7 separate regions of the Homo sapiens genome follow, and regions 2, 3, 4, 5, 6 and 7 are each linked to region 1. The links come from fine-mapping of genetic effects on gene expression. A gene starts in region 1. Each other region holds a variant in brackets. All regions are shown on one strand. Distances are between the middles of the regions. Region 1 holds the start of CYP2D6 (cytochrome P450 family 2 subfamily D member 6 (gene/pseudogene)). Region 2 overlaps XRCC6 (X-ray repair cross complementing 6). Region 3 holds the start of CSDC2 (cold shock domain containing C2). Region 4 overlaps TCF20 (transcription factor 20). Region 5 has its middle 5.1 kb from the start of TCF20. Region 6 overlaps TCF20 (transcription factor 20). Region 7 overlaps SMDT1 (single-pass membrane protein with aspartate rich tail 1).

Region 1 (4,076 bases):
TATCAGGTAGTCACAGTGGCTCAGGCCTGTAATCCCAGCACTTTGGGAGGCCCAGGTGGGAGGATCGCTTCACCCCAGGAATTCAAGACCAGCCTGGACAACTTGGAAGAACCCGGTCTCTACAAAAAATACAAAATTAGCTGGGATTGGGTGCGGTGGCTCATGCCTATAATCCCAGCACTTTGGGAGCCTGAGGTGGGTGGATCACCTGAAGTCAGGAGTTCAAGACTAGCCTGGCCAACATGGTGAAACCCTATCTCTACTGAAAATACAAAAAGCTAGACGTGGTGGCACACACCTGTAATCCCAGCTACTTAGGAGGCTGAGGCAGGAGAATTGCTTGAAGCCTAGAGGTGAAGGTTGTAGTGAGCCGAGATTGCATCATTGCACAATGGAGGGGAGCCACCAGCCTGGGCAACAAGAGGAAATCTCCGTCTCCAAAAAAAAAAAAAAAAAAAAAAGAATTAGGCTGGGTGGTGCCTGTAGTCCCAGCTACTTGGGAGGCAGGGGGTCCACTTGATGTCGAGACTGCAGTGAGCCATGATCCTGCCACTGCACTCCGGCCTGGGCAACAGAGTGAGACCCTGTCTAAAGAAAAAAAAAATAAAGCAACATATCCTGAACAAAGGATCCTCCATAACGTTCCCACCAGATTTCTAATCAGAAACATGGAGGCCAGAAAGCAGTGGAGGAGGACGACCCTCAGGCAGCCCGGGAGGATGTTGTCACAGGCTGGGGCAAGGGCCTTCCGGCTACCAACTGGGAGCTCTGGGAACAGCCCTGTTGCAAACAAGAAGCCATAGCCCGGCCAGAGCCCAGGAATGTGGGCTGGGCTGGGAGCAGCCTCTGGACAGGAGTGGTCCCATCCAGGAAACCTCCGGCATGGCTGGGAAGTGGGGTACTTGGTGCCGGGTCTGTATGTGTGTGTGACTGGTGTGTGTGAGAGAGAATGTGTGCCCTAAGTGTCAGTGTGAGTCTGTGTATGTGTGAATATTGTCTTTGTGTGGGTGATTTTCTGCGTGTGTAATCGTGTCCCTGCAAGTGTGAACAAGTGGACAAGTGTCTGGGAGTGGACAAGAGATCTGTGCACCATCAGGTGTGTGCATAGCGTCTGTGCATGTCAAGAGTGCAAGGTGAAGTGAAGGGACCAGGCCCATGATGCCACTCATCATCAGGAGCTCTAAGGCCCCAGGTAAGTGCCAGTGACAGATAAGGGTGCTGAAGGTCACTCTGGAGTGGGCAGGTGGGGGTAGGGAAAGGGCAAGGCCATGTTCTGGAGGAGGGGTTGTGACTACATTAGGGTGTATGAGCCTAGCTGGGAGGTGGATGGCCGGGTCCACTGAAACCCTGGTTATCCCAGAAGGCTTTGCAGGCTTCAGGAGCTTGGAGTGGGGAGAGGGGGTGACTTCTCCGACCAGGCCCCTCCACCGGCCTACCCTGGGTAAGGGCCTGGAGCAGGAAGCAGGGGCAAGAACCTCTGGAGCAGCCCATACCCGCCCTGGCCTGACTCTGCCACTGGCAGCACAGTCAACACAGCAGGTTCACTCACAGCAGAGGGCAAAGGCCATCATCAGCTCCCTTTATAAGGGAAGGGTCACGCGCTCGGTGTGCTGAGAGTGTCCTGCCTGGTCCTCTGTGCCTGGTGGGGTGGGGGTGCCAGGTGTGTCCAGAGGAGCCCATTTGGTAGTGAGGCAGGTATGGGGCTAGAAGCACTGGTGCCCCTGGCCGTGATAGTGGCCATCTTCCTGCTCCTGGTGGACCTGATGCACCGGCGCCAACGCTGGGCTGCACGCTACCCACCAGGCCCCCTGCCACTGCCCGGGCTGGGCAACCTGCTGCATGTGGACTTCCAGAACACACCATACTGCTTCGACCAGGTGAGGGAGGAGGTCCTGGAGGGCGGCAGAGGTGCTGAGGCTCCCCTACCAGAAGCAAACATGGATGGTGGGTGAAACCACAGGCTGGACCAGAAGCCAGGCTGAGAAGGGGAAGCAGGTTTGGGGGACGTCCTGGAGAAGGGCATTTATACATGGCATGAAGGACTGGATTTTCCAAAGGCCAAGGAAGAGTAGGGCAAGGGCCTGGAGGTGGAGCTGGACTTGGCAGTGGGCATGCAAGCCCATTGGGCAACATATGTTATGGAGTACAAAGTCCCTTCTGCTGACACCAGAAGGAAAGGCCTTGGGAATGGAAGATGAGTTAGTCCTGAGTGCCGTTTAAATCACGAAATCGAGGATGAAGGGGGTGCAGTGACCCGGTTCAAACCTTTTGCACTGTGGGTCCTCGGGCCTCACTGCTCACCGGCATGGACCATCATCTGGGAATGGGATGCTAACTGGGGCCTCTCGGCAATTTTGGTGACTCTTGCAAGGTCATACCTGGGTGACGCATCCAAACTGAGTTCCTCCATCACAGAAGGTGTGACCCCCACCCCCGCCCCACGATCAGGAGGCTGGGTCTCCTCCTTCCACCTGCTCACTCCTGGTAGCCCCGGGGGTCGTCCAAGGTTCAAATAGGACTAGGACCTGTAGTCTGGGGTGATCCTGGCTTGACAAGAGGCCCTGACCCTCCCTCTGCAGTTGCGGCGCCGCTTCGGGGACGTGTTCAGCCTGCAGCTGGCCTGGACGCCGGTGGTCGTGCTCAATGGGCTGGCGGCCGTGCGCGAGGCGCTGGTGACCCACGGCGAGGACACCGCCGACCGCCCGCCTGTGCCCATCACCCAGATCCTGGGTTTCGGGCCGCGTTCCCAAGGCAAGCAGCGGTGGGGACAGAGACAGATTTCCGTGGGACCCGGGTGGGTGATGACCGTAGTCCGAGCTGGGCAGAGAGGGCGCGGGGTCGTGGACATGAAACAGGCCAGCGAGTGGGGACAGCGGGCCAAGAAACCACCTGCACTAGGGAGGTGTGAGCATGGGGACGAGGGCGGGGCTTGTGACGAGTGGGCGGGGCCACTGCCGAGACCTGGCAGGAGCCCAATGGGTGAGGCTGGCGCATTTCCCAGCTGGAATCCGGTGTCGAAGTGGGGGGCGGGGACCGCACCTGTGCTGTAAGCTCAGTGTGGGTGGCGCGGGGCCCGCGGGGTCTTCCCTGAGTGCAAAGGCGGTCAGGGTGGGCAGAGACGAGGTGGGGCAAAGCCCTGCCCCAGCCAAGGGAGCAAGGTGGATGCACAAAGAGTGGGCCCTGTGACCAGCTGGACAGAGCCAGGGACTGCGGGAGACCAGGGGGAGCATAGGGTTGGAGTGGGTGGTGGATGGTGGGGCTAATGCCTTCATGGCCACGCGCACGTGCCCGTCCCACCCCCAGGGGTGTTCCTGGCGCGCTATGGGCCCGCGTGGCGCGAGCAGAGGCGCTTCTCCGTGTCCACCTTGCGCAACTTGGGCCTGGGCAAGAAGTCGCTGGAGCAGTGGGTGACCGAGGAGGCCGCCTGCCTTTGTGCCGCCTTCGCCAACCACTCCGGTGGGTGATGGGCAGAAGGGCACAAAGCGGGAACTGGGAAGGCGGGGGACGGGGAAGGCGACCCCTTACCCGCATCTCCCACCCCCAGGACGCCCCTTTCGCCCCAACGGTCTCTTGGACAAAGCCGTGAGCAACGTGATCGCCTCCCTCACCTGCGGGCGCCGCTTCGAGTACGACGACCCTCGCTTCCTCAGGCTGCTGGACCTAGCTCAGGAGGGACTGAAGGAGGAGTCGGGCTTTCTGCGCGAGGTGCGGAGCGAGAGACCGAGGAGTCTCTGCAGGGCGAGCTCCCGAGAGGTGCCGGGGCTGGACTGGGGCCTCGGAAGAGCAGGATTTGCATAGATGGGTTTGGGAAAGGACATTCCAGGAGACCCCACTGTAAGAAGGGCCTGGAGGAGGAGGGGACATCTCAGACATGGTCGTGGGAGAGGTGTGCCCGGGTCAGGGGGCACCAGGAGAGGCCAAGGACTCTGTACCTCCTATCCACGTCAGAGATTTCGATTTTAGGTTTCTCCTCTGGGCAAGGAGAGAGGGTGGAGGCTGGCACTTGGGGAGGGACTTGGTGAGGTCAGTGGTAAGGACAGGCAGGCCCTGGGTCTACCTGGAGATGGCTGGGGCCT
Region 2 (4,000 bases), 500 kb after region 1:
GTTCTAAAAATTAAAAACAAAAACTAAAACAGAATTTTAGAAAATGTTTTCTATTGCTTATCAACTACTGAATACTTATTATCGGTTATCAAATTGTGCTCATCTATGAATGTCTCATTTCCTTCCTACCTAACACTACATTTTCTTCTGAGGTCTTTAGGCATCAAGGGTTCCATTAACTCTCTGAAATTACAGGTAGAATTGTGAGTACTATCTTTTTTGAGGGGAAGGTATGTAGCTGTCATCATATCCTCAAAGAGGTCCACGGTTGGCCAGGTGCGGTGGCTCATGCCTGTAATCCCAGCACTTTGGGAGGCCGAAGTGGGCAGATCACGAGGTCAGGAGATGGAGACCATCCTGGCTAACATGGTGAAACCCCATCTCTACTAAAAAACAAGAACAAAAAATTAGCCGGGTGTGGTGGTGGGTGCCTGTAGTCCCAGCTACTCAGGAGGCTGAGGCAGGAGAATGGTGTGAACCCAGGAGGCAGAGCTTGCAGTGAGCCAAGAGCCAGGGCAGCAAAGCGAGACTCCGTCTCAAAAAAAAAAAAAAATAGGTCCACGGTCTAAAAAAGGTTAAAGCACTGCTCTTCAAAGTAATGGTCTCCAAATCAGTAACATCAGCATCACCTGACAATTTACTAGAAATGCAAATTCTTGGTCCCCATTCTAGACATAGAGAATCAGAAATTTTGATTGTGGGGCAAGGTTCTGTAGTCTGTGTTTTAATGTCCTGCAAGTAATTCTGTTTGAGAACCACTTTAAATTAACGATTGTTTTTATTCATAGTTCTATTATTTTATTTTACATACACTTTTTTTTTTTGAGACAGAGTCTGGCTCTATTGCCCAGGCTGGACTGCAATAGTGCCATCTCGGCTCACTGCAACCTCTGCCTCCCAGGTGCAAGCGATTCTCCTGCCTCAGCCTCTGGAGTAGCTGAGACTACAGGCGCACGCCACCACACCCAGCTAATTTTTGTATTTTTAGTAGAGACGAGGTTTCACCATTTTGGCCAGGATGGTTTTGATCTCTTGACCTCGTGATCCGCCCACCTCGGCCTCCCAAAGTGCTGGGATTACAGGCATGAGCCACCGCGCCCAGCCTTTTCTTTTTTTTTTTTTTTCCAAGAGACAGGGTCTTACTCTGTTGCCCAGGCTAGAGTTCACTGGCACAATCATAGCTCAGTGCAGCCTCAAACTCCTGGGCTCAAGCAATCCTCTCACCCCGGCCTCCTGAGTAGCTGGGACTACAAGTGCACACCACCACACCCAGCTTATTCTTTTTTTTTGGTGCAAGATATTCTGGTGTGCCAACTACAAGAACTATTTCTTGTTTTCTTGAGATGGAGTCTCTCTCTGTCACCCAGGATGGAGTGCAGTGGCGTGATCCTGGCTCACTGCAACGTCCACCTCCCCAGTTCAAGCAATTCTCCTGCCTCAGCCTCCTGAATAGCTGCAACTACAGGCCTGCACTACCATGCCCGGCTAATTTTTGTATTTTGAGTAGAGACAGAATTTCACCATGTTGGCCAGGCTGGTCTCGAACTCCTGACCTCAAGTGATTCACTCACCTCAGCCTCCCAAAGTGCTGGGATTACAGGCGTGAGCCACCACACCCTGCCTACCAAGAACTATTTGTACACAAATTAGAACATGAAAAGTTTCTGTTCAGTTCCAAATTCTAAAATTATGAGACATGAGATATATAATAAATCTGTGAAAATTCTTCTCTACGAAGTACACAAAAGAAACAGTAATCCCTCTCCCTCTCCCTCTCCCTATCCCTCTCCCCACGGTCTCCCTCTCCCCACGGTCTCCCTCTCCCTCTCTTTCCACGGTCTCCCTCTGATGCCGAGCCGAAGCTGGACTGTACTGCTGCCATCTCGGCTCACTGCAACCTCCCTGCCTGATTCTCCTGCCTCAGCCTGCCGAGCACCTGCGATTGCAGGCGCGTGCCGCCACGCCTGACTGGTTTTCGTATTTTTTTGGTGGAGACGGGGTTTCGCTGTGTTGGCCAGGCTGGTCTCCAGCTCCTAACCGCGAGTGATCCGCCAGCCTCGGCCTCCGGAGGTGCCGGGATTGCAGACGGTGTCTGGTTCACTCAGTGCTCAATGGTGCCCAGGCTGGAGTACAGTGGTGTGATCTCGGCTTGCTACAACCTCCACCTCCCAGCCGCCTGCCTTGGCCTCCC[A/G]AAGTGCCCAGAGTGCAGCCTCTGCCCGGCCGCCACCCCGTCTGGGAAGTGAGGAGTGTCTCTGCCTGGCCGCCCATCGTCTGGGATGTGAGGAGCCCCTCTGCCTGGCTGCCCAGTCTGGAAAGTGAGGAGCGTCTCTGCCCAGCCGCCATCCCATCTAGGAAGTGAGGAGCGTCTCTGCCCGGCCGCCCATCGTCTGAGATGTGGGGAGCGCCTTTGCCCCGCCGCCCCGTCTGGGATGTGAGGAGCGCCTCTGCCCAGCCGTGACCCCGTCTGGGAGGTGAGGAGCGTCTCTGCCCAGCCGCCCCATCTGAGAAGGGAGGAGACCCTCCACCCGGCAACCGCCCCGTCGGAGAAGTGAGGAGCCCCTCTGTCCGGGAGCCGCCCCGTCTGAGAAGTGAGGAGCCCCTCCGCCCGGCAGCCACCCCATCTGGGAAGTGAGGAGCCTCTCCGCCCAGCAGCCGACCCGTCCGGGAGGGAGGTGGGGGGTCAGCCCCAGCCAGGCCAGCCGCCCCATCCGGGAGGTGAGGGGCGCCTCTGCCCAGCCGCCCCTACTGGGAAGTGAGGAGCCCCTCTGCCTGGCCAGCCGCCCCGTCCGGGAGGGAGGTGGGGGGGTCAGCCCCCCGCCCTGCCAGCCGCCCCGTCCAGGAGGGAGGTGGGGGGGTCATCCCCCCACCCGGCCAGCAGCCCTGTCCGGGAGGTGAGGGGCGCCTCTGCCCGGCCGCCCCTACTGGGAAGTGAGGAGCCCCTCTGCCCAGCCACCACCCCGTCTGGGAGGTGTGCCCAACAGCTCATTGAGAACGGGCCATGATGACAATGGTGGTTTTGTGGAATAGAAAGCGGGGAAAGGTGGGGAAAAGATTGAGAAATCGGATGGTTGCCGTGTCTGTGTGGAAAAAAGTAGACATGGGAGACTTTTCATTTTGTTCTGTACTAAGAAAAATTCTTCTGCCTTGGGATCCTGTTGATCTGTGACCTTACCCCACAACCCTGTGCTCTCTGAAACATGTGCTGTGTCCACTCAGGGTTAAATGGATTGAAGGCAGCATGCTCGTTAAGAGTCATCACCACTCCCTAATCTCAAGTACCCAGGGACACAAACACTGCGGAAGGCCTCAGGGTCCTCTGCCTAGGAAAACCAGAGACCTTTGTTCACTTGTTTATCTGCTGACCTTCCCTCCACTATTGTCCTATGACCCTGCCAAATCCCCCTCTGTGAGAAACACCCAAGAATGATCAATAAAAAAAATAAATTAAAAAAAAAAAAAAAGAAACACTAATCTTTTTAATTAAGCTGAAATTTAGATTTTCTAAGTGAACAATTAAGAGGTATTTAATACATTCACAATGTGCCAGGCATAGTGGCACATGCCTTAACCCCAGCCACACAGGAGGCTGAGGTGGGTGGATTGCTTGAGCCCAGGAGTTCCAAACCAGCCTGAGCAATAGTGAGACACCATCTCAAAAAAAAAAAGCAAGGCCGGGTGCCATGGCTCACGCCTGCAATCCCAGCACTTTGGAAGGCCGAGGCGAGCAGATCACGAGGTCAGGGGTCCAAGACCATCCTGGCCAATATGGTGAAACCCCATCTCTACTAAAAATACAAAAATTAGCTGGGCATGGTGACACGTGCCTGTAATCTCACCTACTCGGGAGGCTGAGGCAGGAGAATCGCTTGAACCAGGGAGTCAGAGGTTGTAGTGAGCCAAGATTGTGCCACTGCACTCCAGCCTGGTGACAGAGCGAGACTCCAACTCAAAAAAAAAAAAAAAAAAAGCATAAATGCACACACAAGGCTGGGCGCAGTGG
Region 3 (4,092 bases), 570 kb after region 1:
GGTTAATTTTTCTTTTTTTTTTTTTGTATTTTTAGTAGAGACGGGGTTTCACCGTGTTAGCCAGGATGGTCTCGATCTCCCGACCTCGTGATCCGCCCGCCTCAGCCTCCCAAAGTGCTGGGATTACAGGCATGAGCCACTGCGCCTGGCTTAGTACACCCATCTTCTAAAGAGTAAACTGAGGCTCAGAGAGGTGAAGAGCCTCGCTGAGCTCTCACAGCAGGTCAGGTGCAGCATATCTGCCCTCTGGAGATGTCTGGGGAGGTGAAGACCAGCCATTCCTTGAGGGTGGCGCCCACCCTCCCCTGGAGAAGGAGGAGTCGGGTGTGGAATTCCTGGGGAGCCAGGACTGGGGCTTTTATTTCTGGCTTTGCGCTGACTCAGACCATGACCTTGGGTGAGTCACTCACCAACTCTGCTAAGCTTAAAAACAACTCCCCCAATAAAAATGTCCCAGCCCCAAGCCCCCATCACAGGGGAGCAGATGGGAGGAATGGGTACGGTGGTTTAAAAATAGAAAGGACGGGGAACACAAGGATGACGCTGGAAGGGCTTCCCGAACATCGGGAGCTTGTGCATGGTGGGCCCTGGGAGAGTGAGAAAACAAACTCAGGACCCCCGGGCAGGAGCTGACACTTCCCTGGCTCCTCCCCCTCCCCCAGCCTCCCAGATGCTCCTTAAAATACATCAGTGCCTGAACTGCTCTTGCAGCCTGAGGTGACCTGATTAAACCTGGTCCTTCCCCCACACAGCCTGTGTGCCTGCGTCTGTGCATGAGGGCTGCCCCAGCCAATACTTGAGCTTAATTATTTAAGAGACCCTGTAGTCCTCCTTGTCACATGCCCAGGCTGCCCTGGGGAACTGCTGTGGTTAAGGCCTTTGGGCTTCTGTGGCTTGGGTGGTGGTGGGGAAACCAGGACGGCACTGGGAGAGCCAAATACGCACCCCAGTCCCACCTGTGCTTGGCTGTGCGACCCTAGGCAAGTCACTTTCCCATTTTGAGACCCCCTAGAGAGAGGAATAGACTGGTCAAAGTCATACATACATACAGCATCTGAACTTGAACTCCAATCAGTGTGACCCCACAGCTTTCTGGTGTGCCATGCCAGCCCCCCAGCCCAGGAGTGTCATTTTGCTGGCTGTGGGGCAGAAGAGCTCCCTACTACTTTTAGCCTCCCATTTTGCTGCTCAGCATGGACAAAGGTCTGAACTGCCCCAAGCCCCATTCCTACAAGGCTCTGGGTCCTGGCTGCCCCAGTTGTGACCGTGGACATGACTGGCTCAGCCAGGTCCTGAGCGCCCTCTACCCCCTAGGGGGCTCTACTCCAGACTGGCTGGCAGGTGTCCCCTCCCCACCAGCCATCTGAGAGTGTCCCCAAGTCCCCCTCAGGGAATCCCCCTGCGCATCCGTGAACATTGCCTAGCCATGTCTCTCCAAGCCTGGGAGAGCCATCTGTGGCCAAAACTGTCCTCTGGCCTTTCCCAGGACACGGGCAGGCAGTTCCTGTCTATACCTGTCTTTTTTTTTTTTTTTGAAGGGGGTGAGGATGGGTCAAGATGGGCAGACACAGAAAACAGACATTTTTGGAGAAGACTTCAAGGAAATGGGGGGCGGCAGGGCAAAGCTGGGAGGAGGAAACATTCAGAATTTGGAGGGTCCAGAGGACTCTGGGATGGAGTCAGGTTTGGGAAACCAGTTCCCCATCCCCCAGAAAGCTGGAGACCCCCTTTCCCAGGGAGAGGCCCCTGCCGGATCACAGCCAGGCAGCATGATGCCAGGCTCTCAGAGAGGTTGCCCACCCCCCACTGGGCATACTTCCTCCTCTCCTACCCCAGCCCCAGTGGATGCAGCAGTTCACACTCTGTATTTATTATTGTTCTCGCTCTGTGTCCCCCTCCCCTCTCCCTGGGAAGAGCCTGCAGGCTGGCAGCTTGGCAGGAACCTGCTGTCTCCTTGTGGGTGCCAGCGTCGCCCCTTATCTCCGCCTGGACTCCTTGTGCCAGGGTCAGGCCATTCATGGGCTTGGCACCAGCCAAGGCCACCCTAAGTCCCTGTATCCCAAGATAGAGGCCTGGCAGGCCCTGACTTATCACCCCTGCCCTCCGGGGGCTGTGCCCTGGCAAGGGTGGAGGTCAGAGCAGACCAGCAGGCAGGCAAGAAGCAAGGGCTCGGGGTGGGGTGGTACCTGGGGGAAGAGAATAACCACACGGAGCCACCTCTCTAAGCCAACTAACACAATTATCCCCATCACACTGGGGAAAAAATAGAGTCAGGATAAGACAGCTGCTCCAGGTCCAACTGTCTGCCTTTCCCAGCCGGTCCCTTCCCAGCCCAACATTCCAGGGGAAGGACCAGCAAGGGTCCCTGCTGCACTCTGCTTTCAGCAACTGGAAGCGGCACTGGGGTTTCTCTGGTCAAGGCGGTCCTCTCTCC[C/T]GCTGCTTCCCAGACAGGAGGCTGCGGCTTGGCAGGTATCTGCTGCTCTCTGCCTCCTGAGCCAGACGCAGGTCCCAGACACAGACACAGACACAGACACAGACATGCTCCCACGGGAGCCACACGGCCTCACCTCATTTGGGGGTCACGGGGAGAGAATGAGGGAGGGAGAGACAGGTGGTATCCTCTATACCCCCAACACCCTATCTGTAAGCTGAACTGGGCTGATCCAGCCCCCACCTTCACGTTGTACCTCTCTCCTTCGGCCTGGCCAAAGCCACAGTTTCTGGCACAGTGTCCTCAGGCCCCATCTAGCCCCTCACCTCTCCTGGGCAGCTGGGGTCCAGGCACTGCCTCCTGCGGCGTCCGCGCTCTGTCTCTCTCTGGCTCGTGGAGCTGGCAGGCAGGGGATGGGTCTGGAAGATGTGTGTGTGTGTGTGTGTGTGTGTGTGTGTGTGTGTCTGTGTGTGCTCGCGCGGGCGGTACCTCAGCCCCTCACTCACTCACACGCCTTCCAGCTGACGTCAGGGAGAGCAGGAGGGAGGGATGAGAATTTGTACTCCCTGCTTAAAGGGACACCAGGCTCTGTGGCTCATGGCCCAGACATCACCTCCTGAGTCAGGCACTGCCAGGTGAGAGGCTCAGCTGCGTCTCTCGGGGGCCTTAAAGCTTCTTTTTTTGGAAAGTGGCTTTTATGGTCGGGCCACGGTATAATTTGCCCTGCCCAGTGAGGGCAGCTGCTGAGGAATGCAGGGGAGGAAGAACCTGAGACAGCGCCACGTTCCTGGTAATTAGAGAGCAAGTGGGGTGGTGAGTTTGAGTGTGAGTGTGTGAGTGCACACTGGGGGGCCCCTCGGGGTGGGTGGGCATGAGTGGGGGTGAGTCTGGGAGAATGGAGGTCAGAGCCAAGAGGAGCCCCCCAGAGGGGTCGAGACAAGCCAGGTTCCCAGGGACACCCAGACACTCGTCTCCCCTCCGGACGCTCAGTGGTCCTGCCCTCTGCTAGTACAGACACTGACACGGCTCATCTCTGTCTACCCCTTGTAATATTTCCATGGAATTGAATTGACGAGGACCCCAAGGAAGTGATCGGCTTGAAGGTGCACAGGTGAACACCCCACAGCCTGGGAGGCTCTGAGTAGAGAAGTAGAGAGGGCTGATTGAATTCAGGCACCCAGCCTGTTCTACACCACACGCCCTGGCTTCGAAGTGCTCCGCACTGTCAAGCTGTGTGACCTTGGGCCAGCCCCTGAGGGCCTTTGGAGGTTGAGTGTGTGATGTTCCTAAACCCAGGGCCAGCTGGAGGAGGCCTCCACAAAGGTGCTTCTCTTCGTTCTTCCCATTCCTTCTCAGCCTCAGCTTGGAAAGAAGGAAGCCTTTCCCTGGTGTCTCCTGGTACTACTGAGGCAGGCTGGCATTTTCAAAAGGAGTCTTTTTAAAATAAAAAGGAGGTGGGAGTTAAAAGGGAAACCGCAGAGAAAAATACAAGTAACTAATACAAATAGCTAAGACGCCACAAGAGCTTGCTCTGTTTCAGGCAGCAAGCTTTGCCCTCATTGAAACCTCACAACAATTTAATAATTTATTTTTATCATCCCTACTTTACCGGTGAGGAATTAGAGGCTCAGGGAGGAGGAAGGACTTGACTTGCCTATATT
Region 4 (4,092 bases), 48 kb before region 1:
GTTTCACGTGAAGCATTAGGAGTGCCTGCCAGGTGGAATAGTGCAGAGGGCTGGATGAGATCATTCAGTCTGAGCGTGGCGAGCGCTTGGGCTTTGCTGTTGCTGGCGTTAGTGTAGTTTTCCATCAGTATCTGTGTCGGGGGCCTGAGCCAGCTCAGTGTAATTGCTTAGGGAACACTTTTATTTTTCATAGAAGCAGGAACAAGTTTCTGTCTCTTCCAGCTAGTCTTGCTGGTTGTGTGCCTCTGCTATCTGAAGAGCCAGCATCCTTAGTAGGGTCACATGTGGTTGAGTTTTATGAATGTGTTTGTTGCTGATAGGACACATTTCTTACCTGACAGGATGAGCACTCACAGCAGCCACATCACAGGGCTGACAGAGATGTGCCCCACTTTAAGAAAACCTGACCATATAAGGAGGAGTGTCTCAATTACAAAATAATGTCTCACTTAGCCAGAAATTCATGGCAGGTTTTCTGGTGCATTTAAAATAAGATTCATGTATAAAAATACCATTTGCACACAGGAGCCCATATTTTCTGAAAAGGGAAATGTATTGGGCATTTGGGGTAAGTAGATCAAAAATAAAAATAAAATCTTCTTACAAATACAAGAACTAGAAACCAAATTCCACTTCTAATTCTAAAAGGTTTATATATAACTCTACTACCTTACCCTCTCTTACCCCAGATTTTCACAGCAGAAGTAAACAGGGAAGATCTGCAGGCCGCTCACGATAGCAGCAAGGAAATGCCTGGCATAGTGTGTGGGTGGGTGGATGGCGGGGGTACCAGAGGCAGGGCTGGGGACCCCACTCTGGCATGTCCTTTATGACATGGATTGCTCATCTCACCCTGCTGTATTGTTGATTTGAGAACATTTGTGAGGCTTGGTCTAAAACATTATTGCTGGATCCCTTCCCATGGTGTGGTCAGTGAATGGCATTTAGAAATTGACCAGCTCATCCTGCCACCACGGACTCCTCTAACCACAGAGACACGTGCTGAGGTCTAACAGATGGGGACCAGGGAAGGCCTGGAGGAGAGGGCCAAATCTGGGATACTGACATGCCTGACTTTTCCCTTCCTTTCAGAAATGTTCCCACTGCCAGGAGGCAGGCGCCACCTTGGGCTGCTACAACAAAGGCTGCTCCTTCCGATACCATTACCCGTGTGCCATTGATGCAGGTAAGAGGAGACCACAGACCCTTGTCCAGAGCATCCAAAGGATTAGGACATACAGTTTGATTCTCTCTGTTGTCGTTGTTTTTTTTCTTTTCTTTTCTTTTTTTTTTTTTTTTTTTTTGTCACTTCATAAAAAAACTTCCCACCCATTAGCAGCACTCATCTCCCTTCCCTTCCCTCCAGTCCCTGGCAACCACTATTCTGTTTTCTTTTTTAAATTTTTATGATTTTTTTTTCCCTTTAAGCTCTGTTGGACTCAATCCTTTCTATCTCTGTGGGCTTTGCTGTACATTTGGGTTACTTCCACTTTTTGACTGTTATGAATAATGCTGCTATAGAACATTCACATGCAAGCATTTGTGTGAACATGTTTTCAGTTCTCTTGGATGTGTACCTGGGAGTAGAATTGCTGGATCATATGGTAACTCTGTTTAACCTTTTAAGGAACTGTCAGACTGTTTTCCAAAATGGCTGCCCCATTTTACGTTCTCAGTGGCAGTGCATGAGTGTTCTCCTTTCCCCAGGTCCTCCCTGACACTTGCTGTCATATGTGTTTCTTTTTTTTTTTTTTTTTAATTGTAGCCAGCCCAGTGGGTATGAAATGTTATTTCATTGTGGTTTTTATTTGTATTTCCCTGATGGCTAATGTCGAGCATTTTTTTCTTGTGCCTATTGGCCATTTGTACATCTTCTTTGGAGAAATAGCTATTCACATCCTTTGCCCATTGTAAAATTGGGTTGTTTATCTTTTTAATGTCAAGTTTTAAGAATTATTTGTAGGCCGGGCGGGTGGATCATGGGGTCAGGAGTTCAAGACCAGCCTGGCTAAAATAGTGAAACCCCGTCTCTACTAAAACTACAAAAATTAGCCAGATGTGACGCGCACCTATAGTCCCAGCTACTCGGGAGTCTGAGGCAGGAGAATCACTTGAACCCGGGAGGCAGAGGTTGCGAGATCACGCCACTGCACTCCAGCCTGGGCAACAGAGTGAGACTCTGTCTCAAAAAAAAAAAAAAAAAAAAAAAGAATTATTTGTAATTCTGGATATGTGGTTTGCAAAT[G/A]TTTTCTTCCATTCTCTGAGTTGTCTTTTTACTTTCTTTTCTTGATAGCATCACACAGGTAATTCACCATTGGACACCAACTGGGTGTCCTATAGTTTAGCTTGGTTCTGATACTAAGCAGAGTTAGTGCAGCCCCTACAGGTTAAGGGCTCAGTCCCACAAGACCGCTCCCCACTTCATATACCAATCTCAAGCCCTGTGTTATGACCTGTGTTTCTGAGTGATCAACTATAAACTGGGGTTCCCAAGACCGCTTCCTTGGGTTTGATTAATGTTTAACATGGCTCACAGAATTCACGGAAACACTTCACTTGTGTTTACCCATTATAAAGGATGCAGATGAACAGCCACATGAAAGAAACATAGGGCCAGATGTGTGGGCAGGGGCATGGAGCGTCCATGCTCTCTCCAGGGGCACCACCCCTGAGGCACCTTCATCTACTCAGCAGTCCAGAAGCCCTCTGAATCCAGTAGTTCACGGATTTTTTGGAGGCTTCATCATGTAGGCATAATCAATTATTAACTCAATCTTCACCCCCTCTGTCCTTCCTGGAGTGGGGTGGGTAGAGCTAACAGTTCCAAGCTGCTAATCACAGCTTCGTCTCTCTGGTGCCCAGCCCCCATCCAGGAACCACCAAGAGTAGCCTTAGAACAAAAAGTGCTCCTATCCAGGAAATTCCAAGGGTTTAGGAGCTCCATGTCAGGAACCAGGATCAAAAACCAAATATTAGAAGAAAAGATGCTCCTAGCACCCCTAATTGCTCAGGAATTTACACGGGTTTTAGGAGGTCTGTGCCAGGAATCAGGGATGAAGACTAAAATATGTATTTCTTACTCTAAATCACAGTACGTTGTATACATACAATAGAGTGTTGTATTTTCTTTGCTGAGATGATAGGGGGATGTTTTGCAGTGTGTTAACTGTTGAAAGAAGGGAAACATTTTGTTAAAGAAGTGCCATCCAATGAGTGACGCAGAAGACTTGAGTTTTGACTCAGAGCTTCGATAACCTGGGAAAATCACCTTTCTTACTCTAGACTTTTAGTCCCTTCAGTGGGTGTTTTCCCCAGTTACTTTTTTGGCGGCAAGGTGGGTGTTAATTTCAAGTTTATTAAGTTTTTTACTTTTCTTTTTGAGACGAAGTTTCGCTCTTATCGCCCAGGCTAAAGTACAATGGCATGATCTCAGCCCACTGCAACCTCTGCCTCCCAGATTCAAGTGATTCTCCTGCCACAGCCTCCCGAGTAGCTGGGACTACAGGCGCCCACCACCATGCCCGGCTAATTTTTGTATTTTTAGTAGAGACGGGGTTTTGCCATGTTGGCCAGGCTGGTTTCAAACTCCCGACCTCAGGTGATCCACCCACCTCAGCCTCCCAAAGTGCTGGGATTACAGACGTGAGCCACCGCGCCCAGCGTTTTTTACTTTTTTTAATGGACAGTAATTGTAGATATGGGGTGCTCAGTAATGTTTCAATATATATATAAAATGATCAGACCTAGGTAATTAGCAAATCCATCGTCTCAAACAACATGTCTGTGTTGGGAACATTTGGTATCTTCTAGTCATTTGAAACTATACAATATAATGTTGTTAACTGTGGTTATCCTACAGTGATACAGAATACTAGAACTTATTTCTCCCATCTAGATGTAATTTTGTATTCTTTAACAAATCTCTACTTATCTCTTCCTTTCCTTTCCCCTTCCTGGCCTCTAGTATCCTCTGTTCTACTTTTTAATACTTCCGTAAGATCAGCTTTTTAAATTTCCACATGAGCGAGAACATGCAGCTTTTAACTTTCCGTGCCTGGCTTATTTCACTTGACATAATGTCCTCTAGTTACT
Region 5 (4,092 bases), 150 kb before region 1:
AAACCCTGATGACTGAGGTTCAGGGTGACGTGACACAGGGCCTGCACTTCTCAGAAGAGGCTCAGCCACAGGGCAGGATCGCGTCTAAATACATACTGGCTTGTGTCCTGTGCTCAGAATCCTTCATCATCTCCTCTTTTTGCCCAGGGATAAAGTCGCAAAGCCTCTGTGGCCTGTACTGTCCTGCTCCAGCTGCATCTCCAGCTTTCTCATTTCACTTACATTACCCTGCAGGCCCCTGTGCCCTTCCTGGAAATCTACTTGTTCCCTCCTACCGCAGGGCCTTTGCCCATGCCGTGCCCTCTGCCTGGAGCTCTCCTCCAACTTCACCATGTGGTTACTTCCTACTTGTCTTTCAGGCCTCAGCTCAAATGTCCTAGATCCCCAAGGCTCAGGGTCCCTATTGTACATCTGCTGTGCTCCTGCCACACTTTCTTACTAATTTGTATCATGGCTGTTATCAGATGATTATTTATGTGATGATTCTTTTTCTAACAGCTCCATGGCACCATAAACTTCATGACCACAGGGACCCTTGGGATCAATGCTTGTCATAAGGGCTCAGTCAATGTTTGTTGAATGAATGAATAAGTGTTAAGAGTTTGTGGAGGAGGTGGCATTTGAGTAAGACTTGAAAGAGGATATAATTTCAATCTGTAGGGAAGAGGGAACGGCATTCCTGCTGCAGGGAGCAGACAGGCACAGGACAGGAAGCCAACTTGTCTAGTTAGACAGAGAGGCAGAATGAGACCTGGGAGAGAAGGTTTGGAGAAGCAAGCGGAGCCAGATAGAGCATTGTATTCCAGGCTGATAGGAATAAACTTGAATGGTGAAGCCGCTCAGGACCCACTGACAGACTTCTGAGCCAGGGGGAGCAAAGTTAAAACCGGCTTTGGATAACTGTAATGAATCCGCCACAGGGATGGGTGGGCAGGGAAAAGTGGCTCCAGTCGAGGACCAGTTAAGAGTTGGAGAATTCACGGCTCCTGCTGCTTTCTGCTCCCCTGGAATCAAACGTGATTTTGCAATTATCCCCGAGAGCTCGCAGGGAGATGCAGGGCAGTGATGAGGAACCTCACACGGCGTGGCTGCTTCCAGAAGACAATCGCCTTGGCATCAGGGCAGCTATCCCCGAGTCACTAGAGGGAGAGACGGAGTTGATTAAGCATCGGCATCTGCGTTTCTTGGCTTCTCCTATTGAGAAGGCAGCATCCAGCTCTGCATCCCTGCACCTGTGTCCTGGTGCCTTCTATTAATAAGTGGCCCAGGAATCTTGACGCTGAAGGACCAACCTGTGGCAGAAGATGAGCAGAAACATTTCTGTCAAATGCCCAGCAAACAAGACTCCACGCCTCCGTGGGGAGCCAGCACATAAGAGTCAGGACTCTTGAGGACCTGAGGACAAATCCCAGCACCACCACTTAGCAGCTGTGCACCTTCGAGCATCTTCTAAGTGACTCTGGGCCTCCATTTCTTCACTTGTGAAAATGGAGGCTGCCCTGGTGTTGTGAAGGTTAAGGTTAAGTGACATATATGGATCCCCAAGCACAGGGAACACTGGAGGCTCAGGAAGTAGTGGCCGTTATCATGGCTGCGTTTTTCTCCATGGTTTGAATTCTTAGCAGGAAGCTTCGGTTTCAGGCTTAAAAATGAAGAGCATGTCAACAAAACAGGATGGAACAAAGTCTTTTCCCAGCATGCCTCAGCATGTGGCACTGCCTTCCCGTGGAGCCCAGACAATGATGTGGCTAAAAGTCTTGAGCTTTCAGGCAGAAATAATCCCAAAGGAAAGGAACTTCCTTATTGTCATCTTATAACAAAGCAACGCAGGGGCCCTGTAGCCTGTCAGATTCAGCTCTGCCCCCTCCGAGCTGCTCTGTGCCTCAGTTTCCTCATCTGCAAAATGAGGCGAGAACAGTACCCACTTTATAGGGTTGTTGTAAGGATTAAGCAAGTTACTGCAGGAAAAGCGCTTAGAGCATGCCTTTGTCACTGCGACTCTTAGATCATTTCATATTCAGGTTAACTCTTTGTAGTGCCCTGAGTGACTCTGTGGGGGCTTTGGAGCCAGAAGACTGAGTTCAAATCACAGCCTCTTCCTAGCTGTGTGACCTGGGCAAGTCTCTTAACCTCTGTGTGCACCCATTTCCTGCTCTGTACAATGAAGATGACAATCCCTGCCTCATGGGTTTGTTGTGAGGAGTGAATGGGATCACTCAGGTAAGGGCGCCGACTCCCCTGAGGCAGGCAGCTCACCTGGCCCCTCCCAGCCC[A/G]ATTTACAGCTGAAGAAATTGGATGATTTAAAGACACACACTGGTGAGACCAGGCTGGCGCCAGCTCAGTGACTGGCCCGATGAGAGTCCAGCCACTGGGGACAGTGAGTGCCGGGCAGGTGGGGGTGATCTGTGCGCTCAGGTTGCACGGGCTTCCCGTTTCTTGGCCTATCCTCAGGTGTTAGCTCTCTGCTCACCTGTGGGGAAGATGTGTAAGTCGATTCACAGCAGCTGCTGCTTGTTGGGCAGACCGTGGTCTTCCAGGCATGGGGTCCGAGAGTCTGAGGCCCCCCGACCTGCCCGAGCTGCCCAGTGTCCAGGGCTTAATATATGACTGCTGGAGGGGCTGGCGCTGCCCATGCCGTCCTCTTACATTCTTTCCCTATCGGCCTGCAGACTTTTGGTCCTACTGACTGTCTAGGTCCATCTCTGTCTTTCCAGTGTTTGCTGAGTGCTGGGAAGCTTGGTGGTTAAGAGTGCAGCCTCTGAAAACCTGGGTTCAAATACCAGCTCAGCCTCTTCCAAACTGTGTGACTTGGGATAAGTTAAACTCTTTGCACCTCAGTGGCCCCATCTGTAAAATAGGGGTGATAACAGTACCAAACTCATTAGACTGCTGCAAATAAGAAGAACTGGGATGATAAAGGGAAATCTGCATAGTGCCTGGTTCATAGTAAGCCTGGATTCCTCTGGGCTGTATCATCCTCATTAACATCATTTTAATGGACATGGTGCCCTACCCTGCACAGGATGCCGGAGACCCAAGAGAAGCAGAGGTGTCTCTGCCCTGCATATGCTCACAGTCCAGGGGGAGAGATGGATGCATCCCAGATTAGGATGCCACACTTCTATCCTGGAGGGCAGAGTGGAGGGGCAAACCTGGAGAGCAGAAGTTTCTGTGGGACCCTGTGAAACAAATCCATGCCAAACATGTCAATGCTCTAAGGCCCTGCAGGATCCCACCCTTGCCCAACTCCGCAGCTTCATCTTTTTCCCCTGCACTGGGCACAGTCCTCCTGGGCACAGCAGGTGGCTCTCCCCCACACCCCTAAGTCTTGGTATTCTCTGGTCCTCTGTTTTAAGGCCCTCCCCACCACCATAACTTTAGAGCCTCCCCTGACCTTGCCCCAGAAAGAACTGTTCTGAGCCCCCATGCTCCCTCCATGCGGGCTCAGAGACTTGCACAAAGCAGGGGCTCCTGTGGAATGAGGGCACAGAATGAGGGCGTGCCCACAGAGGCTCTCCACCCCTGCTGTTTGTGCACTCTCAGTATCCTTGTGCTTTGCAAGGGGACAGTGCGTGGCTTGGGGACAGGCACAGCAGGAGGCTGTGGGGAGTTTCCCGCTCTGTTAGCCAGAGGCTTTTGTAAGTTGCCTCCTGGCAGACTGCAGATGAAGCCCCGAGCTTGTGAGCAGGAATTCCAGGCCTCCCTCTTGGTGTGACTGAGTTAGCAGGCGGCGCCTCCCAAGAGGAAGGAGAGCTGGAGCTTGGTGAAGGATAAAGGTGAGGGCTGTGTGTCTGCTCACGAGAGCTGGCAAGTGAGGAAGGACATCCGCCTGCTCTGAAGGCACCGACACCCTGGCTCACTTCGCACAAGTCACTGATCTGCCGAGCAGGGCCAGTCTCCTCAATCAATCCACGCTGACAGATGGTAGTAGAATCAGTGACCTAGAGGCAGAAGGCTCCATTTGTAATCCTGGAGTGGCCCAGGCGCCTGGAGGAGGGCAGAGGAGTTTGTAATAAAAGGAGTGATACAGTGTTTCCAAAAGCCGTCTTTGAGCCAGAGGAGGAGGGAAAGGATTAATTTTGTTTCTAGAAT
Region 6 (4,092 bases), 110 kb before region 1:
AGTAGAGACGGGGTTTCTCCGTATTGGCTAGGCTGGTCTCGAACTCCTGTTCTCAGATGATCCACCCGCTTCGGCCTCCCAAAGTGCTGGGATTACAGGCATGAGCCACCGCGCCCAGCCTTAAACTTTTAAAATTGTTATCTGTCATGAAGATCTGTGATCAGTGATCATCGATGTTACTTTTTTTTTTCTTTTTTGAGATGGAGTCTCGCTCTGTCGCCCAGGCTGGAGTGCAGTGGTGCGATTTCGGCTCACTGCAAGCTCTGCCTGCCGCGTTCACGCCATTCTCCTGCGTCAGCCTCCCGAGTAGCTGGGACTACAGGTGCCCGCCATCACACCTGGCTAATTTTTTTGTATTTTTAGTAGAGACAGGGTTTCACCGTGTTAGCCAGGTTGGTCTCAATCTCCTGACCTCATGATCCACCCACCTCGGCCTCCCAAAGTGCTGGGATTACAGGCGTGAGCCACCGCGCCCGGCCTGATGTTACTTTTGTAATTGTTTTGGAGCGCCACAAAGCACTCCCATATAAGACGGCGAACTTAATATATACATGTTGTGTATAGATGTGTGTTCAGACTGCTGCCAACTGGGTGTCCCCCCATCTCACCACCTCCTCAGGTCTCTCTGTTACCTCAGACACAACAGTATTGAAGTTAGGTCAGTTAATAACCTGATCATGACCATTAAATGTTCAAGTGACAGGAAGAATTGCACATCTCTCACTTTTAAATCAGAAGCTAGAAATGATGGTTTAGTGAGGAAGGCATGTCAAAAGCCAAGATAGGCTGAATACTAGGCCTATTGCACCAAACGTGGCCAAGTTATGAATGCAAGAAAAGGTTCTTGAAGAAAGTTAAAAGTACAACTCCAGTGAACACATGAATGAGAAGAAAACGAAACAGCTTATTGCTGATATGGAAAAGTTTTAGTGACTCAGATGGAAAATCAACCAGCCGCAACATTCCCTTAAGCCAGAGCCTAATCCCAGAGCAAGACTTTCTCTTTTCACTTCTGTGAAGGCTGAAAAAAGTAAGAAGCTGCAGAAGTGAAGTTTGAAGCTAGCACAGATTGGTTCCTAAAGTTCTTGAAACCATCTCTGTAACATTAAAATGCAAGTTGAAGCAAGTGCTAATGTAGAAGCTGCAGCAAGTTATCTAGAAGATGTAGCCAAGATCACTGATGAAGGTGGCTATATTGAACAGATATTCAGTGTAGCCTTATGTCAGAAAAGATGCCATCTAGGACTTCCATAATTAGGAGAAGTCAGTGCCTGGCTTCAAAAGACAGGCTGACTGTTATTAGGAGCTGGTGTAGCTGGTGAATTTAGGTTGATGCCAGTGCTCATTTACCATTCTAATAATTCTAGGGCCCATAAATTTATGCTAAATCTACTCTGCCTGTGCTCTGTCAGTGGATCAACAAAACCTAGATGACAGCACATCTGTTTACAGAATGGTTTAATGAATATTTTAAGGCCACTGTTGAGACCTACTACTCAAAAGATTTCTTTCAGAATATTACTTCTTGACAGTATACCTGGTCACCTAAGAGCTCTGATGGAAATGTATAAGGAGATAAATGTTGTTTTCATGCTTGCTAACACAACATCTATTCTGCAGCCCCTGGATCAAGGAATCATTTTGATTTTCAAGTCTTATTTAAGAAATATGTTTCATAAGGCTCTAGCTGCTATACATAATAATTCCTCTAGTGGGTCTGGGCAGAGTGAATTGAAAACCTTTCGGAAAGGATTTACCATTCTAAATGCCATTAAGAACATTTGTGATTCATGGGAGGAGGTCAGTACATGAACAGGAGTTTGGAAGATGATTCCAGCCCTCATGGATGACTTTGAGGGGTTCAGGACTTCAGTGGAGGCAGGAACTGCAGATGTGGTAGAAATAGCAAGAGAACTCGAATTAAAAGTGGAGCCTGGAGATGTGACTGGATTGCTGTAATCTCATGATAAAACTTGAACAGATGAGGAGTTGCTGCTTATGGATGAGCAAAGAAAGTGATTTATTGAGATGGAATCTACTCCTGATGAAGATGCTGTGAACATTGTTGAAATGCCAATGAAAGATTTAGAATATTACATAAACGTAGTTGATTAAGCAGTGGCGGGGTTGAAGAGAACTGACTGCAGTTTTGAAAGAAGTTCCACTGTGGGTAAAATGCTATCAAACAGTTTGGCATGCTATAGAAAAATCTCTTAGAAAAGGAAGAGCCAGTCGATGCGTCAGACTTCATGGGTGTGTTATTTGAAGAAATTTGCCACAGCCACCTCAGCCTTCAGCAACCACCACCCTAATTAGTCAGCAGCCATCAACATGGAGGCAAGACCCTCCGTCAGCAAAAAGATTAGGACTCCCTGAAGGCTCAGATGATTGTTAGCATTTTTTAACGATAAAGTATTTTTTAAATTAAGGTATGAACATTGTCTTTTAGACATAATACCATTTCACACTTAGTAGACTGAAGTATAGCGTACACATATAAAAGTTAATATGTGCTGGAAAACCAGAAAATTTGTGTGACTCGCTTTATTGCCAC[G/A]GTCTGGAACCAGACCCACAATACCTGCAATGTTATGCTTGTGGCTGATTTTTCATAGAATGTTTGTGTCTCTTTGACTTTTTTATTTTCAAAATTTAGGATTGCAGGTGACTCTCCATTGGCTTATTTCAGAATGACTGGGGTTAGGGTGTTTGCTAATTGCATGCCAGTGGTCAGGGAAGAAGGGAAAACTCTTGCACTTTAGAGGCCATCTGCCTCCAAGTAGAGCTCCAACTGTCAGGCCACTGTCCCTCTGTGGGGAGGGTGGGGATTGGTCCTGTGGCTTGTAGTTCTTGCCATATAGATTAAGAATGCGCTCCGTCGGCATTCTTCATTGTGAATTAGAGGATTGATGAGGATTTAACCCTGCTGTGATTTCTATGAATGGACTGTAGATCCCAGGGTGTGGGATCTTTCCTAACTCGAGAATGACAAAAATTACCTGTCACAGAGTGCTGTTACACCAATCAGTAGTTATTTATTGTGTTTTTTAGGGTTTATTTTGTTTGTTTGATAACCTCTTTTCCATTTTTTTCCTTGTTGTCTTTTACTTGTTTTTTTGTTTTTGTTTTTGTTTGTTTTTTTGAAGTGGAATCTCACTGTCACCCAGGCTGGAGTGTGCAGTGGTGAGATCTCGGCTCACTGCAACCTCTGCTTCCTGGGTGTACAAGCAAGTGATTCTCGGATTACAGGTGCCTGCCACCATGCCCAGCTAATTTTTGTATTTTTGGTAGAGACAGGGTTTCACCATGTTGGCCAGGCTGATCTTGAACTCCTGACCTCAAGTGATCTGCCTGCCTCGGCCTCCCAAAGTGCTGGGATTATAGGCGTGAGCCACCATGTCTGGTGTCTTTTACTTATTTTATTATTGGTTCAAGTTTTTACCTGAGAGAGGGAAAGAGGGTGGTAATTCTAACAGTGATAATTTTGATTTATATGGTACTTAGCTGTTTGCAGACTTACTGTGGGACATTCCCGTGTGGTGGCAAGGTAGGTTAACTCCACTTTTGCAGGTGAAGAATGTGAGACATATGGGTTAAATAACTTGCCCAAGTCACAGAACAAGTGGCAAGACTAGGAAGTATTTAGATTTCTTAATTCTAAATGTAGTACTTTTTCCAACAGATGACCCAGAAGAATCAATAGAAAACAAATTTAATAGTGGAAGCAATTGTATGTACAAATAAAATTGTATTTTTTGTTCACTTCGCTTACTAAAATAAAATCCTATTTCTAGATGATTTTCTAAACATGTTTTTCTTGGTCTCTTTGTTCAAGTCATTTAGTTTGACTCTAGGTAAGATAGTACTACTCAATGTTCTTTCTGTCACTTCAGGAGAGAGATGGTGTGCACCAGTTGATACCCAATGTTCCCTTGTTCTTCTCCCTGATATTACATCAGAGAAGTCCCCAGTTGAGAAGGGAGGAGGAAAGTTTTATGGTTACTGTTCCTCAAATCTCTTGGGAAAGACAGCAAACTGCTGTCAGGAGTAGTTTTCTTTTGTCTCAGTGTCTGTTACATTTATACATGGCACCCT
Region 7 (4,000 bases), 48 kb after region 1:
CTCACTGCAAGCTCTGCCTCGCGGGTTCACGCCATTCTTCTCCTGCCTCAGCCTCCCGAGTAGCTGGGACTACAGGTGCCCGCCACCACACCCGGCTAATTTCTTCTATTTTTTAATAGAGACAGAGTTTCACTGTGTTAGCCAGGATGGTCTCGCTCTCCTGACCTTGTGATCTGCCCGCCTTGGCCTCCCAAAGTGCTGGGGTTACAGGTGTGAGCCACCGCACCTGGCTGACCCCTTCTTTTTAATTTGCTGGAGCAGCTTGCAGAACTCAGAGGAACACTTAGGTCCGTTTACTGGTTTATTATAAAGGATATCACAAAAGATACAGCTGAAGAGATGCATAGGGTGAGGTATAGAAGGGGCGTGGAGCTTCCAAGTTCTCTCCAGGCGTGCCACTTTGCAAAGCCAAGTGTTCTGTTCTCCGAAAGCTCTCTAAACCTGTCTTCTTGGGCCTTTTATGGAGACCTCATTGGATAGGGATGATTGAAGCATGGACAACACTGGAGAAATGGGATTGGACAAAAGAGGCATAATCTAATACAGATGGAGTGGGGAAGTCCAACAAGGCCTGTCTACATTTCTTCCTCTCAGGTATGGGGCAGAATCCCTTCTGAAATGGGGGTCTCATGACCTAAAATCAGACAAGGTAGGTCAGAGGATTCTTTTTATGGCCAACTGGAAGACGGGCAAAGGAAGATTATACTTTTAGTTTCTATGGCCTGCCTTGGGGAGAAAAAGCAGCAGGTGAAAGGAGGTCAGGAGAAGATCTGAGAAACAGCCTGCTGTTTTCTGAGGCCCGAAGTGCCCAACATTATAACAAAAGCCTAAAACAAGGGTTTTGGGAGTTATAAGCCAGGAAATAGATGAAAACCTATCTATATCCTCATATCACAGAACCCGAGTTTTGAATCATTCTAGTTATATTTAAGTAGTATGCTAACAAGCAGAGCTGTCATGACTGGCACTGAACACAGAATGGCATGAGGCTTTAGTTAGCCCATGAAGCTTTCTTAAGGGAAAATGCACAGTTTCTGTTGGGCTTTTGTAAACAATGAAAATAGTTCCCAGGGCCCCCAGAATAGTTCACCAGGCTCCACTGCAGCCTGGATAGCCTGGGCCTATGTTTCTCCCATAAATAAAGGACAGCAGAGACAACTGCACCAACTAGAACCTAGGGATACTGAGAAACTGCAGCCATCACTCAGTCACGCACGGCTGATATTTATTATGTTTATTCATAATTTGATTGCTTGTTTGTGCAGTGCTTAGTGGACAGCACATCTCAGGGAGCCTCCCAGAGCCTGGGGTGGAATACGGTCATGGACCATACAGGAAGCTTCACCAGACTGGGAGGCTGAGGGCCTTCCCCGAGCCTTTCTGCTGATAGGGAAGGCAGAGAAACTGAGAGCATCACCATTTCTTCAGTTAGTGCTTTCTCCTTTCTGTAATTCCTGTAAGAAAGGAAAGCAGCAGTGAACTGGGCAACAGCGTAGTCTTCCATCCGCAGACTGAAAGAATTCCACAAAGTGCTTCTATCAAACATGGCAGGAGAAAGGCAGCTTTGAGCACGTTTGGTTGTTCATGCGCACGTTAACTGGGCATTCACCACAGGCCAGGCACTGGGGGCCGCAATGTATAAAAAACGTCCCCTGCCAGCAAGAAGCTCAGAGTCTAGTAAAATTTTGCTTTGTGTGTGTTTAGCCACATAATACCGAGTATTTGAAGAGAGGTACTGGTTGCTTAGAGGAAGGAGCCGTCAACTTTCAAATGAAAGGAGGAACGAAGACTTCAAAGACACTGTAGAATGGGTGGAATTAAGACCCAGAGCTCTGGGAAGGAGCCTTCCATGTGGGAG[G/A]AACAATGAGCCAATGTTTGGGGGTGGGTATGAGTGTGAAAACTCAAGAAATGGTGAATACTGGGAATCGGTGTGTGGCTGGAAATATGGAAGATGAGACTGGAATAAGAGGTGTGACCAGATTATGGCAAGCCTTGAATGCCAGGCTAAGGAACAGGAGTGTCCTCATCTCTTGACAGAATGCCATGCAGCACATATTAGAGCACATGAAGTTGGCTGGGCGCAGTGGCTCACGCCTGTAATCACAGCACTTTGGGAGGCCAAGGTGGGTGGATCACCTGAGGTCGGGAGTTTGAGACTAGCCTGGCTAACATGGAGAAACCCCGTCTCTACTAAAAATACAAAATTAGCCAGGCACAGTGGCGCATGTCTGTAATCCCAGCTACCCGGTAGGCTGAGGCAGGAGAATCGCTTGAACCTGGAAGGCAGAGGTTGCAGTGAGTCGAGATCATGCCATTGCACTCCAGCCTGGGCAACAAGAGCGAAACTCCGTCTCAAAAAACAAACAAACGAAAACATTAGCCACCAAGTGGGCCAATTCATTAATGCTTCTGCCCCCAGTGTCCAAATGCTGCTACCAGGCCAGACTGCATCACAGACAGATGCTCCACCCTGCTTCCTGCTCCATCTAGGGTAAAGCAAGTCTTACCTGTTAGTCATCATCATCATCATCCTCTGGAACAAAAATGTCATGTTCCTCAAGTAGAGCAGCAAAGTTCTTGCTAATGAGTGTCCCGACATAGAGAAAGGGGATCACAATGGAGAACACACGGAGAAGGCCGAAGGACATCTGCAGAGGGTCAGAGTGGCAGCTGTGAGCTCCAGAGCCCACTCTGGCAGGACCAAAGAAGACCTGGCCCTCTCACAGACATACCCTCAGACCCATCATAAGCAACTTGATTTTAAAGTCCTTGGAAAAATTCAGGGCAAGAAAAGTAATTAGAAAAGGAGAAGGCCAGGCAGGGTGGCTCACACCTTTAATCCCAGCACTTTGGGAGGCTGAGGTGGGTGGACCACCTGAGGTCAGGAGCTTGAGACCAGCCTGGCCAACATGGTGAAATCCCGTCTCTACTAAAAATACAAAAAATTGACCCAGCATGGTGGTGCGCACCTGTAATCCCAGCTACTCGGGAGGCTGAGGCAGGATAATTGCTTGAATCCAGGAGGCAGAAGTTGCAGTGAGCCAAGATTGCACCATTCCACTCCAGCCTGGGAGACAGAGTGAGGCTCTGTCTAAAAAAAAGACAAAAGGCCGGGCGCAGTGGCTCACACCTGTAATCCCAGCACTTTGGGAGGCTGAGGCGGGCGGATCACGAGGTCAGAAGTTCGAAATCAGCCTGGCTAACATAGTGAAACCCCGTCTCTACTAAAAATACAAAAAATTAGCCGGGTGTGGTGGTACATGCCTGTAGTCCCAGCTACTCAGAAGGCTGAGGCAGAAGAATCACTTGAACCCGGGAGGCGGAGGCTGCAGTGAGCCAAGATTGTGCCACTGTACTCCAGCCTGGGTGACAGAGTGAGACTCCGTCTCAAAAAAAAAAAAAAGGAGATAAGGTGACTGTTATGGCCATCAAAATGGACGAAAAGTCCACTGGAAAGAAAAGTCTAAGGCACCCTAGACATCTAAAGTTAGGACACAGCCTGCTAATTACTTTAAATCCCTACAGGCAATCGGGTGCACCAGTACTAGGAGGGCCAGACTACGGTGAGCTCTGCCTGAACACGAAATACACGAAAACCGATGACAGAAAGATGTACAGTGAAGGGATATTCTACACAGTTCACTAAGTAACAGGTTCCCTGATGCCTGAGAAATTTGATTTAAAAATTTTAGAAACAGATGTATTTGAAAGTGGGCATGTATTTACACTCAAAGACTTTAGATGGATTGGGAGAATGTCAGTAAAATCTCAGCAACATTTCTCTCGTATTCCTAGAATTAAAAAAATTTTTTTTTCAACTGTTTTGATAAGGCAGGTCTTTCCCAACATGGACCTACAGTCAATTGTGTGAGTTAGCATAGGCTAGACTAGCTTTAAGAGAATTTGTTTTTTTAACTCCCACACCACACAGCCCTGCAGTCGTAAAGCAAACTTTCGCTTGATATAAGGGACTGTTTCCGTTTTCCCTAGAAAAACTCAA

Evidence for each region. PIP is the estimated chance that this variant, and not a neighbour inherited with it, causes the effect. A credible set is the group of variants that fine-mapping cannot tell apart.
Region 2: its variant is the best candidate, but not a certain one, in a credible set for the expression of CYP2D6 in whole blood (INTERVAL, PIP 0.53).
Region 3: its variant is the best candidate, but not a certain one, in a credible set for the expression of CYP2D6 in whole blood (INTERVAL, PIP 0.69).
Region 4: its variant is the best candidate, but not a certain one, in a credible set for the expression of CYP2D6 in cultured neurons (Aygun 2021, PIP 0.77).
Region 5: its variant is the best candidate, but not a certain one, in a credible set for the expression of CYP2D6 in whole blood (INTERVAL, PIP 0.57).
Region 6: its variant is the best candidate, but not a certain one, in a credible set for the expression of CYP2D6 in whole blood (TOPMed, PIP 0.66).
Region 7: its variant is the best candidate, but not a certain one, in a credible set for the expression of CYP2D6 in pancreas (GTEx, PIP 0.69).

Annotation. Positions count from the first base shown.
Region 1 is chr22:42,128,413-42,132,488 of GRCh38, reverse strand. CYP2D6 (cytochrome P450 family 2 subfamily D member 6 (gene/pseudogene)) reads left to right here and starts at 1,679. Exons shown (of 9, transcript NM_000106.6): 1 at 1,679-1,877; 2 at 2,580-2,751; 3 at 3,304-3,456; 4 at 3,545-3,705. The coding sequence starts at 1,698. RefSeq lists a cis regulatory region at 383-394 and promoters at 88-1,620, 1,207-1,673.
Region 2 is chr22:41,629,951-41,633,950 of GRCh38, reverse strand. The region is part of intron 3 of XRCC6 (X-ray repair cross complementing 6); the gene reads right to left. Among named protein-coding and RNA genes, the nearest start is that of XRCC6, 11 kb to the right of the region's middle. RefSeq lists an enhancer at 2,893-3,546. The variant A/G (reference allele first, on the strand shown) is at 2,192.
Region 3 is chr22:41,559,849-41,563,940 of GRCh38, reverse strand. It overlaps CSDC2 (cold shock domain containing C2), which reads right to left and starts at 2,931. Exons shown (of 4, transcript NM_014460.4): 1 at 2,758-2,931. It overlaps LOC105373044 (a long non-coding RNA gene), which reads left to right and starts at 3,058. Exons shown (of 2, transcript NR_134631.1): 1 at 3,058-3,221. The variant C/T (reference allele first, on the strand shown) is at 2,435.
Region 4 is chr22:42,176,703-42,180,794 of GRCh38, reverse strand. TCF20 (transcription factor 20) reads left to right here. Exons shown (of 6, transcript NM_001378418.1): 3 at 1,093-1,186. Among named protein-coding and RNA genes, the nearest start is that of CYP2D6, 48 kb to the right of the region's middle. The variant G/A (reference allele first, on the strand shown) is at 2,246.
Region 5 is chr22:42,273,743-42,277,834 of GRCh38, reverse strand. It overlaps a transcript of TCF20 not described here and the pseudogene OGFRP1. Among named protein-coding and RNA genes, the nearest start is that of TCF20, 5.1 kb to the right of the region's middle. RefSeq lists enhancers at 1,376-2,172, 2,173-2,969. The variant A/G (reference allele first, on the strand shown) is at 2,274.
Region 6 is chr22:42,235,223-42,239,314 of GRCh38, reverse strand. The region is part of intron 1 of TCF20 (transcription factor 20); the gene reads left to right. Among named protein-coding and RNA genes, the nearest start is that of TCF20, 33 kb to the left of the region's middle. The variant G/A (reference allele first, on the strand shown) is at 2,555.
Region 7 is chr22:42,080,573-42,084,572 of GRCh38, reverse strand. SMDT1 (single-pass membrane protein with aspartate rich tail 1) reads right to left here. Exons shown (of 3, transcript NM_033318.5): 2 at 2,508-2,648; 3 at 289-1,454. The coding sequence ends at 2,511. Among named protein-coding and RNA genes, the nearest start is that of SMDT1, 2.9 kb to the right of the region's middle. The variant G/A (reference allele first, on the strand shown) is at 1,859.